2 linked regions of the Homo sapiens genome follow. The protein of the gene in region 2 purifies or fractionates together with the protein of the main gene of each other region. This does not show direct contact. Each region holds a gene or a part of one and is shown on either strand. Other genes may lie near its edges.

Evidence for each region.
Region 1: the proteins of FHIT (region 2) and MTMR6 purify together in Homo sapiens (affinity purification with mass spectrometry; 2 studies listed by BioGRID and IntAct, with this or other methods). This does not show direct contact.

The regions. Positions count from the first base shown.
Region 1 is NC_000013.11:25,284,315-25,292,323, forward strand, and holds the start of MTMR6 (phosphatidylinositol-3,5-bisphosphate 3-phosphatase MTMR6), read right to left. Parts: upstream 3,175-8,009; 5' UTR 2,934-3,174; coding exon 2,910-2,933; intron 1-2,909. UniProt on the Homo sapiens protein: Lipid phosphatase that specifically dephosphorylates the D-3 position of phosphatidylinositol 3-phosphate and phosphatidylinositol 3,5-bisphosphate, generating phosphatidylinositol and phosphatidylinositol 5-phosphate.
Region 2 is NC_000003.12:59,746,548-59,750,520, forward strand, and holds the end of FHIT (bis(5'-adenosyl)-triphosphatase), read right to left. Parts: exon of another isoform or gene 3,033-3,973; 3' UTR 730-3,032; downstream 1-729. UniProt on the Homo sapiens protein: Possesses dinucleoside triphosphate hydrolase activity. Cleaves P(1)-P(3)-bis(5'-adenosyl) triphosphate (Ap3A) to yield AMP and ADP. Can also hydrolyze P(1)-P(4)-bis(5'-adenosyl) tetraphosphate (Ap4A), but has extremely low activity with ATP.

The sequences.
Region 1 (8,009 bases), on a different chromosome or scaffold from region 2:
GCAGGTTACTTAAATTCTCTAAGCCTATTTCCTCCTCACCTATAAATGGAGATAATACTACCCAACTGACAGGGTTATTTAAGAGATCAGTGATGATAATGTATAAATTAACAGATTTATACAATTGTACATATTATAAAGTAATAATATTGTATAATTGGCTATATTGACATATAGTTGCTCAATAAATGGTAATTATTACTTTTCAAATAGAGCTGACTGAACAACAAAAATCACTAAATAGTCATAAAGGACACTCTACGGTCAATTTTGATCCTAATGACTAAACTACATAGAGGTCAAAACAGCTAATAAATCTAAAACAATCCACTTTTGCTTTTTAAATACTTACACTTATTTTTGCAGCAAACTAACTAAATCCAGGTGAAGGCTATGCATAATGGAAACAAAAGTTTGGCTATGTTCAAACCAATCTTTTAAAAGTAAGTTATTTCCCAATACATTAATAATTTAAGAACATGTTACAGTCCCCACAACAATTAACAGAATGTACCCTGAGGTCCACCTCTATCTTGCTGTTATATACCCAGTGTCAATACAGTGTCTGGCACATACTAGGTACCTAGAAAATATTTATTTGCGGTCTACATACACTCACTTAATATTACTCCAGAGTAGTGATCCAATACTAGAAAAACAACCCAAAGTAATAAAGGAGCATATTTGAAAAGTAGTTTTAATAGACAATTCATCAGAAATTTCTTAGTCTCTAAAAAGGCCTTATTAAACCACTAGCATGAGACCACTGTGTAAAGATAAGTCAAAATCAGAGCATTACTTGAAGAAAAGTTCATCAGTTGGTAGATAAGGAGGAATATCAGACAAAATGAAAGTCACCAGTGACAACTTTCAAAGAGCTAATAAGAGGGGCTACAACTCTACAAATAAAAACAAAGATATATATTCATAATAAATTGAATGAGGAAAGATTTAAAATAACCAAGGGATCCTAAATATTTTCCAAGTCTGTTCACTCTTATCATCCACCTAAGAATAGGATTTGCTCTAGTTGATCAGATTCAGTTTACTTTTACTGATTTTTTATTCTTTTCCGCCCCCCCCCCCCCAATTATGTCACCCAGGCTGGAGGGCAATGGCGCAATCTTGGCTCACTGCAACCTCCACTTCGTGGGCTCAAGCCATCCTCCCATCTCAGCCTCCCGAGTAGCTGGGACTACAGGTACATACCACCCCACCCGGCTTTCTTTTTTTTTTTTGAGACTGAGTCCCGCTCTATTGCCCAGGCTGGAGTGCACTGGTGCCATCTTGGCTCACTGCAATCTCCACTTCCCCGGTTGAAGCAATTCTCCTGCCTCAGCCTCTGAGTAGCTGGGATTACAGGCGCCTGCCACCATGCCCGGCTAATTTTTGTATTTTTAGTAGATATGGGGTTTTGCCAGGTTGTCCAGGCTGGTCTCGAACTCCTTACCTCAAGTGATCCGCCCACCTCGGCCTCCCACAGTGCTGGGATTACAGGCGTGAGCCACCGTGCCCAGCCTTTTACCGGTTTTCGATTGTGTGCTATGCACCGTAGAAAGCATATGAAAAATAGAGGAGCTTCGAACTGATGCAGAAGGAAGTCACGTGCACTTAGCTACTACATAATACATATCTGGAACCAATACAAGAACCTGATCCAATGTCCACTCTAGTCCTCTTTTCCTCTGTGCACCTTCTACGAGTTTGGTTATAGACTTAAGCACCCTTCCATTTTCAAAATTTAAGTACCCACAACTTGAATTCTCAAGTTATTTTATCTTTCTTCTCTTAAAAAAAAATGTTAAGGGGTTAGTTTTCAGAATCTTCAATTTTACTAGATACGGTATGCACAATGTTAAAGACAAGCTCCAATAAAAATTTATGTATACCTTTAAAAGGTTTGTGAAACATTTAAAAAATTTTTAAAAACACAAATTCTTCTTGGAACAATGAAGATAACGAACATCTGTGGTTCCCTAAATGAGCCGTAATTTTAAGATGGGCAGCAACTAAAGGGCTTCAGCTTTGCCAAAACGTCAAGAGGCTGCCTTGCAGTGGGCTCGCAGTGATTTTAAAATGTTATTCTTCTCGTCTCGATTTATGTTTTTCTCCCTCTCAAAGTTAAACTTAAATGTCGTTGGAAACGTAATTTGGTAACATTCTGATGTCATTTCCTTCCGTTTTTAAATTTGTAACGAAATAAAAATATTTGTTCGTTCTCAAAATGAAGGTCTTCCACACACAAAAATTAAGCATGGAGTGCAATAAGGTCAATCGAATAAAGCTGCATCCGACCTTTTAAAATATGGAATAACATTTTTCCCTTCTCCAGAACTCTTGACTACTGACACAGGACAATGCCTGAAGTATGAAGCACAGACACGGAAACACCGGATGCGAAAGACTGGAGACCGAGACAGCAAAGGGAGGTGGAGCGGAGTGCTGATCTCGGTTCCTCCAAAACTCGTACTGTGAATCTGTGACACGGGACAATGAAATGTGAGCAAGGACAAGCTTACACAGCATCATAATGTTAATTTGAAGACGGTTTTCCGGTTGATGAGGCAACGAAAGGCTGAAAGACTCCAAAGTTAAAGGAGCCCCAATTTTGCCCGAGAAAACGTAGAGCTAGGAGGGCGGTGACCAGTTTTCCCAGACTTATCTCTACGCACTCCAAGATGCTGAAAGTGGGACCCCTGCTCCTGTAGGTACAGGAGGCCTCTGCACCCCGCTTGGCCCAAGCTAACCCTGCCCTCCCAGACCAGGCCTGGCCAGACCCTCCCGCCCCGGGCCGGGTCTCCGCCGGGCCGGCTCCCAGCCCCAGTCAGGCCAGCAGAGCCTTCGTCTCCTCCTGCCTCAGCCGGGTCAGAGCAGGGCCCCTGAAGACTGGCGATCCCGCGCCCGACTACCTTGGTCGTCCGGATATGCTCCATCGCAAGGAGACGTCAGCCGGCAGCCGGTCTCACAGGCGTACCATACGGCTACAGAAACAGGGCGGTGACAGCGACAGAGAGCAAGCGGGAACTCCCTCCACCAGCCAGCGCCGCGGGTCTGTCTGCCGGCCCCGGTGGCGTCAACGGCGCAGGTGCAGCCGGTGAGCGCCGTCTCCTAGAAACACTTCCCCAAACCCCGCGGCCTCCCGGGGGACTCGGGGCAGGCAGACAGAGCGTGTGTGGACCGAGAGCGGCTTGCTGGTTCGTCCCGGACAGCGGCGGATCCCACAGCGCCCCCTGCTGGAGGAGGCCGGTACTGCTCACCACCCCACCCGAGGCGGTCTTTGTCATCCCGCCGAGCGGACGCGCGGGGCGGTCGGGGAGGAAGACTGCGTGAGAATGGATCCCGAGTAAAGGGTTCTTGTGGGGTGAGGGCAAGAGTGGAGGATGTTCTGAAGTCCATCGCCATACCACTGGACAGCACCAAATTTAGTTTGAGCTGCAGTTCTACTCATAAGAATGTATTCTAAGGAAATAATCAGATTTGGAGTTATTATTCTAAGGAAATAACCAAATAAGGAAACCAGCCTTATTTGAAACAATCAACTCTCCAATCCTACGGATTCCTTATGTAAAGTATGATGATTAGCTAGTCCTCAATCTGGTCTGGTGTCAGAGTCCCGCCTCCTACCTCAATTTCATACGATGTTAGCACCAGCATCCATTAAAACTCATCCTGTAGAGGGATATCACATAACGAAAATGTTAATGCTGCATTACTGAGTGAAGAAAAAACTGACTATGGAACAATAAGTTCAATGTAGCCGTGCTCTGTAATTTTTATTTATGTAAACAAAAAGTTTACATTTCTAGGTGAGGGTTACAGGTAATTTTTGTTAGAACACGTCTAATGTGGTACTTCTCAGCCTGGAGTGAGTTTTCTCCCCGGGGGACATTTGGTAACATCTGGAGATATTTTTGGTTGTCTCAAATGGTGGTGGTGGGGGGGTGGCGGCGGGGGGCAACTGGTGGGTGGAGGCCAAGTCACAAGTCGGCTGCTGAACACCCTACTAGGCACCAGACCAACCCCCCAACTACAGGGAATTATCCGGCAGATGACAACAGTGCAGAGGTTGAGAAACCCTGCTCTATGCCAGGCGCGGTGGTTCACGCCTGTAATCCCAGAACTTTGGGAGGCTGAGGCGGGCGGATCACTTGAGGTCAGGAGTTAGAGTCCGAGAAACTCTGCTCTACGTTTTGTAAGTATTCTGTACTAAGCCGGTTAAGGTTTGTAATCTTCATCTTTCATACTGTGATTGGTGTTAGAAAAGCCTAACATCTAAATTTTCTTTTATAATTAAAAATTTTGTTTCACTTATTTGTTTCATTTTGTTCAAGTTGTCTTGGTTTGTTTTGTTTTGAGTGCCTACGATGTTTCAGACAGATTGCCAAAGCAATGGAGATGGTTATTAAACACAACAGCCTTTGCGGTGGAGTTGCTGACTCCTCTAAGCTAAATATGTAATAAGAGTTACATTAAACCACCTAGAAACCAACCTTAGTACAGTATCACATCCACCCCCTCCCCCCGAAAAAAAACCCCACAAATCCTGCTCAGAAAAAAAAAAAAATATATATATATATATATATACACATATATATATATATATATATACATATATATATATATACACATATATATATATATAGAGAGAGAGAAAAGTAATGTAGGTCTTTACTGAGGATTGCTTTTTGAGAAAACAGAAAGAGGTGAATTGTATAGCATACAGCAAGACTTTCTTAACAAAACTTTTTATATCATTTTCCTCCCAATTTACAACTTCCTCCTTCCCCATTCCCCTACAGATTATCCTCCCTCTTCTCATCTCCTCACTTCCTGTGTCCTCTCTTTACCAATTCTCACAGAGAGGCAATCATAATGATGTCAGGTGACCAAATGTACTGAGTGCTTTACGGGTATTCTGAGGAAAATGCTATTGCTTTCTTTATTTTAGAGATGAGACAAGCGAGACACAATGAAGTGAAGTAACTTGCCCAATATCACATAGCAGATAAAGCCAAGATCCATGTTATAAAGCCAGACAGGCTGACTTCAGAGTCTGTATTCTTAACAACTGTTTTACATTGATTTGCTTCTCAAAATCCATATTAAAGTTCTATTTATGTTAATATGATAGGCTAGAAAATTACCTAGCTTTACAGAAAGAAAGTAAAATAACAGATAAAATATTAAATGACGTTTCTTTGACTCTTGAGTTGAATACTCTTGCACTAGATAGAATATTCCTTATGGTTAAATCTGGCAATCACTCAGTTCCATTATCTTTCCTCGAGACATCTCTTTAGAGGTCTCCAGATGCTTCTAGGAGCCTTTTCTCCTTTTGCTCCAGTTTGCACTTGTGTTCTCTGAGCCTACTGAATGGATATTATCCTGGGACTCTCCTCACCATGGGCCTGAGAAATGTGTTGGTTACTTGTGCTGAATTTTTAGATCCTGTGGTTTATCTTTCTTGATTTACTTACTTGCATTGTTTTATTCTGATGTAGTATATTCTGTATTAACTTCCTGAGAAAGGGTGAATGGAGCATAAATCCTTGACGGGAAGTTTGGCTAGGTCTAGAATTCTGTAATTTTAATTAGGATTTTGAAAGCTCCCAGAGACATATCCTGACTTTCAATGCAGTTGTTCAGAAATCCGCTGGCATTCCGATTTCCCTTTAGGTGTCGCTTCTACTTTCTCAGGATGCTTTTTGGATCTCTTTATCTCCAATGGTCTAAAATTTCAACATAATAAAACTTAGCTTTCTTGTTTATTTTTCTGCCCAGTGTTTTGAGCTCTGTAATCTGAAAACATAAGTCCTTCAATTCTGGGACATTTTCTTGTATTATTTCTGTAATAATTACTGTTTCGTTCTTTTTCCTTCTTCCTTTTTCTTTTTTCCCTTTAAAAATTTTTTTTATTCTTCTCACCTCTCTTCTCTCCCTCATCTTTCTTCTTTCCTATTTCCCTCCTGTCCTTTCTCCTTTCTTTTTATTTTGTTTTATTTTTATTTATTTATTTTTGAGACAGGGTCTCACTGTGTCACTGAGGTTGGAGTGCAGTGGCACAATCTCAGCTCACTACAGCCTCAACCCCTCAGGTTCAAGCAATCTTCCCACCTCAACCTCCTGAGTAACTGGGACTACAGGCGTGCACCACCAAGCCTGACTAATTTTTGTATTTTTTGTAGAGACGGGTTTTTTCCATGTTGCCCATGCTGGTCTCAAACTCTCGGGCTCAAGTGATCTGCCTGCCTCAGCCTCCCAAAGTGCTGGAATTACAGATGTGAGCCACTGTGCCCAGCCCCTTTCTTTTTTCAGTAGAAATTCCTGGTCTGACTTCCTAATTTTACTATTCTTTCACTCCTATTTTTTAAGAATTTACCTTTCTAATCTACTCTCTAGGAAATTCTTAATACTTCATTGTTTCTAATATTTTTAGAATACTCCATTATTTCTAATATTTTTAATTGCTGCAATTATATATATGTACATGTGTGTATGTATGTGTATGTATATATATATACACACATATACATGCACATACATATATAATTGTAGACAAACCTTGTGCTCAGATCTTGGATTCTTCTTTTTCTTCCTTTTTTGTCTACTGAGCACAAGGTTTGCCTCCCAAAGTGCTGGGATTACAGGCATGAGCCACTGTGCCTGGCTTATATTTTTAATTTCTAAGTGTTTTCACTTTAAATAGACTTTATTTTTATTTATTTATTTATTTTTTAGAGATGAGGTCTCGCTATATTGCCCAGGCTGGAGTGCAGTGGCTGTTCATAGGTGTGATCATAGTGCACTACAGCCTCAAACTCCTGGGCTCAAGCAACCTTCCTGTCTCAGCCTTCTGAGTAGCTGGGAATACAGGTATGCTATACCACAAGATGCTCCAGGCTCATCTTGCATCTTTCCCACCCCAGCCCTAGAATCATCCATTTCCCCAAGGAGCCCTGGTTCCTTTTATTGGAAAATGTTATTAGAATCCAAGATCTGTTCTGAACCCAAGATGACCTAACTGGAAAAAAAAAGAATCCAAAATCTGAGCACAAGGTTTGTCTACTAGAATGTTATTGTTTCTAAGTGAAGAGATCTTTTTGGTTACATACATTTTCCTATTTTTCTTTGTTTTTCAGTTTGTTCATTTATTTGTTTTCTAGCCTCCTGCTCTGATACATGTAAGAGCTCATCTCTCCTAGGTGAATAATAGTTTTCATTTATTTATGTATTTCTTGTAATTTTTGCTTCCTGAACCCTATTCCTTTTAGGTTCTCTCTACGTTTGCTGTTTTGGTCTCTGACTTTGATGTCAGAAGCGATCCTCCAATATCTAATCATCTTTAATGGTCCTTTCCAGCAATAAAATGCTGATTGGAAACTTACTCTTTATAGGAGAATTTGCCTATTGTTAAGCTTCATTATTGAATGATGGGGTAGGGGCTTGGTACTTTTGTTGGGGGTCCCTACATCATTATTTGAAGACCCTGTGCATGTGAAAGGCACAGGGAGCTCTGGGAACAGATGTCCTGTTAGCAGCAGTAGCTGAGTAGAAGCCCCAGTCAGGTACCATATATAGGATCCAGATGATCCAGGCCATCTGCCTCTCTGTTGCCAGCTCTCCCCTTGGTGATTACTGCAAGGAACAAAGAGACCCATTTCCCCTCAATACAAGGGGTGGGAAATGAAGAGACATTGGAAAGAGAAGAGGTTCATTCACTAATATTTGTTTTATTGTTAGTAATATTTATAAAGCACACGATCCAGTTTCAGAGGATTCAATATGCACCTGTGTTCCTACATTCCTATCCTTCCCTTTAAAAATGTTGACATACAATAAAATTCATCAGATTAAGCATTTTCTGCTGCCTGATCTCATCAATTATGCCAAGAGCACACTTAATACTGTTACAATTCAATTGAGTAGTCCACTGCAACTTACAAACTAATCTGAAGGAAGATAATCAGGAAGAGACTTGTTTTTAGGGTTAGTTAGACTGGTGAATATCA
Region 2 (3,973 bases):
TGCTTTAAAATTAAGTAGAAAAACTGCTTGGGTGTATAGTGGCAGCAAATCCAAGTATCAATACCTGCATAAAGAATTACCATCCTCCAGGAAGAAGGCAACATTAGATAAGAAATGCAGGTCTCCTGTCATCTAATGTGATTTAGAACATAGACTAAAAGAGCCATTGCAAATCCCTTGTCCCGGAACTCAGTCCAGTGTGTAGGGAGCAAATGCATAAATTCACCTATGCAGAGAGCAGACGCTGAATTCCTGGAACGAAAGGATTGCCAGCCTCATCAAGGATCTGTCACATGGTGAGTGAGACAACTGCAGCTTCATTCAGCAACCCTTGGGCTGTTGAGCTCCTTGTGCATGGTGAAGGCAATAACCCTTTCTCACTACTGCTCAAGAAACTGCAATTCAAAGTCATTTTCTGGTAGGCAAAGGATACAGAGAGAAGCTAAAACACCAAAATGCAGGTGCATATAACCCTGGAGGGTTATATGGGAAGATAAAGAGAGTTCTTTTACACAATTAATCTGATGTTGGTGTCTTGATGGCTTCAAGAGGCTGAGGAGTCAGTACATAGTTTCAGAATGTTTACCTTTGTTGTCCTAATGGTACTCTTGCTATGCTGAGGATTAATTCTTTATATGTAAGGAAGATATAGAAATAATACTTACCAAGGAGTTGCTAGGTGTATTAGTTTGTTCTCATGCTGCTAATAACCACACACTCAAGACTGGGTAATTTATAAAGGAATGAGGTTTAATGGACTCGCAATCATGGAGGAAGGCAAAAGAGGAGCAAAGCCACATCTTACATGGCAGCAGGCAAGACAGCGTATTCAGGGGAAATGTCCTTTATAAAACCATCACTATCAATCATGAGAACAGCATGGGAAAGACCCTCCCCCTTGATTCAGTTACCTCCCACTGGGTCCCTCCCATGACATGTGGGGATTATGGGAGCTACAATTCAAGATGAGATGTGGGTGGGGAAACAGCCAAATCGTATAACTAGGTATGTCCACCCCAAACATTAAGTCAAGAACATCTTTTTGGTCTTATAGTCTTTATTCTTATATAGGGCATCTCTGGATATAGGTGTTCACATTCTTCTTTGCAACCTGTTGGTTTTCAAGACAGACTGTCGGCAAGCAAAATGTCAGAGGCAAGCACTGAGATTTGACCCATCAGCCCTAGGGAAGCTGACTCTTTGGTTTTCCCCCATGCACCTTGTCTTCTTGATATGCCTGCAGGGGTTGGGGGGAGGTGGGTGGGTGGAAAGGAGTACTGGTTTAGGGTTGAAGCAAGTCTAAAGCCAGCTTGCTCTGGGTTTAAGATCTGGCCTCCACTGCTGTTTCTCCAAAGTTGGGAGTCAGTCATATTCCTGTTTAAGATAATCTTAAGTGATCTACATTGAATCTCTCAGTAGGTTATTCTCTTTAATCCTTCTGAATATGCCAAATGGAGAGTTTCGGTTTGGTGCTAGAATTAAATGCCCCTCTAATGGTGGCTAGCCTCACTTTTTAACACAGAGACTGAATCTCACTCCTAGTTGCTAAGGCAAGCAACTATGCAGAGCTGGAAATCATCAGCATTGTTTTTCTCTTATGTTTATTTTTATGCTTAACTTCTAATTACAGGTAGTACTTGTTTTTCTTTGAGGCTGAAATATAAAGTTTAAGATATATATACTAAAATTCAAAAAGTGAATCAAGTAAATAATGCTCTAGGTGGTCCACAAAGATAAGAAAAATCATGACAAAATGGGAATGAATGCAATTTGGGGAACACTGTATTCGCCCAAGTGATGTTTATTTAGGCATGTGGTCAGATGGTAAAGAAAAGAAAGTGGGAGGGTAGCCTAGGCAGGATTCAGCATGATCTGAGAATCTTGCAAGTAGAACCAAGTTGGTTGGGGAAATCCAGGCCCATTTTGGTTTCTGCTACCTGGCTGTAGTGTGACCAGGGAGGCAGGTGCTGGGCAGGGTTGTATTAACAAGGCAGGTAAGGAAGAAGTCCAGCAGGCGAGGAGGTGGGAGGTCCTCAAGGCAGAAATAGGCCAGTAGATAAGGTGAAGAGGCTAAGAAGACTATTTGGAGGGTACAAGGGGAGATGGGACAGGGAGAAGGAAGTGGCTAGAGAGGTGAGCTCTTTTAGCAAGGAGGGCAGTACACAGACTAAGAGAATGGCCTTTAGGGTGGGACTGCCTGGATTCAAATCTGAGCTTTGCCACTTACCGTTGGCCTTGAACTAATAATACTTAACATCCTTAAGCCTTAGTTTTCTCATCACTTGCAAGACAGGATAATAACAGGGTCTACATCTTATAAATTCTTAGCAAGTGTGTTGGCTAGTGTTATCAATTCCAGGGCTGAGCCCTATCATGTCTGCCTCTGTGCATGTTGAGAATTGTGCAGTTTTGCAGAGTGAGCACCATGAATGTCTTTAAACTTGCTCTGCCTAAGACTAGCTTGCTGCTGAGGGAATAATCACGAAAGCTGGAGAAGGCCAAGTCTATCTGACCTTCAGATTAACAATTTTTAAAGTCTAGCTATGTCCAAATATTTCATAATTGCCCTATTTACTAACACATTTCAGGGGTTTCATGAACCACTTAATGTATAAAAATTCAATATGTAGACATTTTTTTTGAAAAGGGAAGAAATAAGCAGGTGGACCAATCCAACGATTGAATTTCCTTTAAAAAAGTAACTGTAACTGTAATAGGTTTGTTGCCTAATTCATGGCAAGTCAATACACCGAGACACAGGGTTGCAGCAGAGAAGGAAGTTTAATCATAAGGCTGCCGAATAAGGAGACAGGGGGAAACCTCAAATCTGCCTGTCTGAGCCGTTTAGGTCTAGGTATTTTAAGGGAGTTGGAGTGACCGAGGTGGGGGATCACTGGTTGAAGAATACAGGATGGTGAGATGAAGAAACTGCATTTTCATGCTGATTCAGTTCCTCTTGGGGAGAGGCGGGGGGCGGTCTTCAAACTGGTTGGCAATAGCTCTTTTGCTGGAATTCAGGATCTGAAAAACATCTTAAGCCATTTTTAAACAAACAAAGGCCTTATGATTCTAACATCAGAAATCTTCTCTGTAGGAACAATGAGGAGGCAAATGGTTAGCATCTGGTGCTCTGGGACTTTTGGTTACGAAGAAGTGGGCCAAAGTGCAGCCTGATTAATGCTTAATTACAACTATATTTCTGTCCAGAACCCAGCATCTAATTCTTGTTAACCCTGTGAGGATGGTTTCAATAGAATGTTTCCATTGTCCTTAAAGGGAGGTATAGTTAGTCCCATTATACTCCAGGTAATGATGACAGTCTTGGCAAAATCTTAGGACCCTAAGTTGTTTGCCACCTCACAACCTATATTATCCGTCCTAGTCTTAGTTACCACATCTGACTGCTGGGAAGACTGAGGGTGATTTGTTTGGTCTGTGCACAAAACCTTTAAAGAGAAATACACATGTTAGTTAACTTAAAAATCCACAGGTACTGTGGCAATAGTTTGTGTAACAAGTTAGGGTAAATATCTTTCTGGTAAGATGTACAAGGGAAGTCAATTTACCTGGAAGACAGGAGGTGTCAGGCCTCCAGGCAAGACAGAAGCAAAAACTGACAAAACAAAGCCTACAGGAAATTTGGGTAATAAGTTTGAATCTTCTTAAAGTTCTTAAAGTGTCTAGAAAAAGCATTCTAAGACAAAACTCCTACAATTCAGCAAGCCTTGGGAAAAAGGCTAAAGCTTTCTAGCCTCTACCTGAAAATACCCACTGCATAGAAAACCCAGGAGAAAAAATTCAACCTAGGCAGTCAAGTCTGAGGTATTGTCACCCCATTTAAATTTGAACAGGGCACTCTAAAATGACATACTGGCCTTCATAAGAGGAACAGAAAGAGGTTTGTAGTCATGCCCATAGGCCTATGTTCTTAGGTAAACTAAACTAGCTTGATCCTTAAAAAACGAGAGAGAGA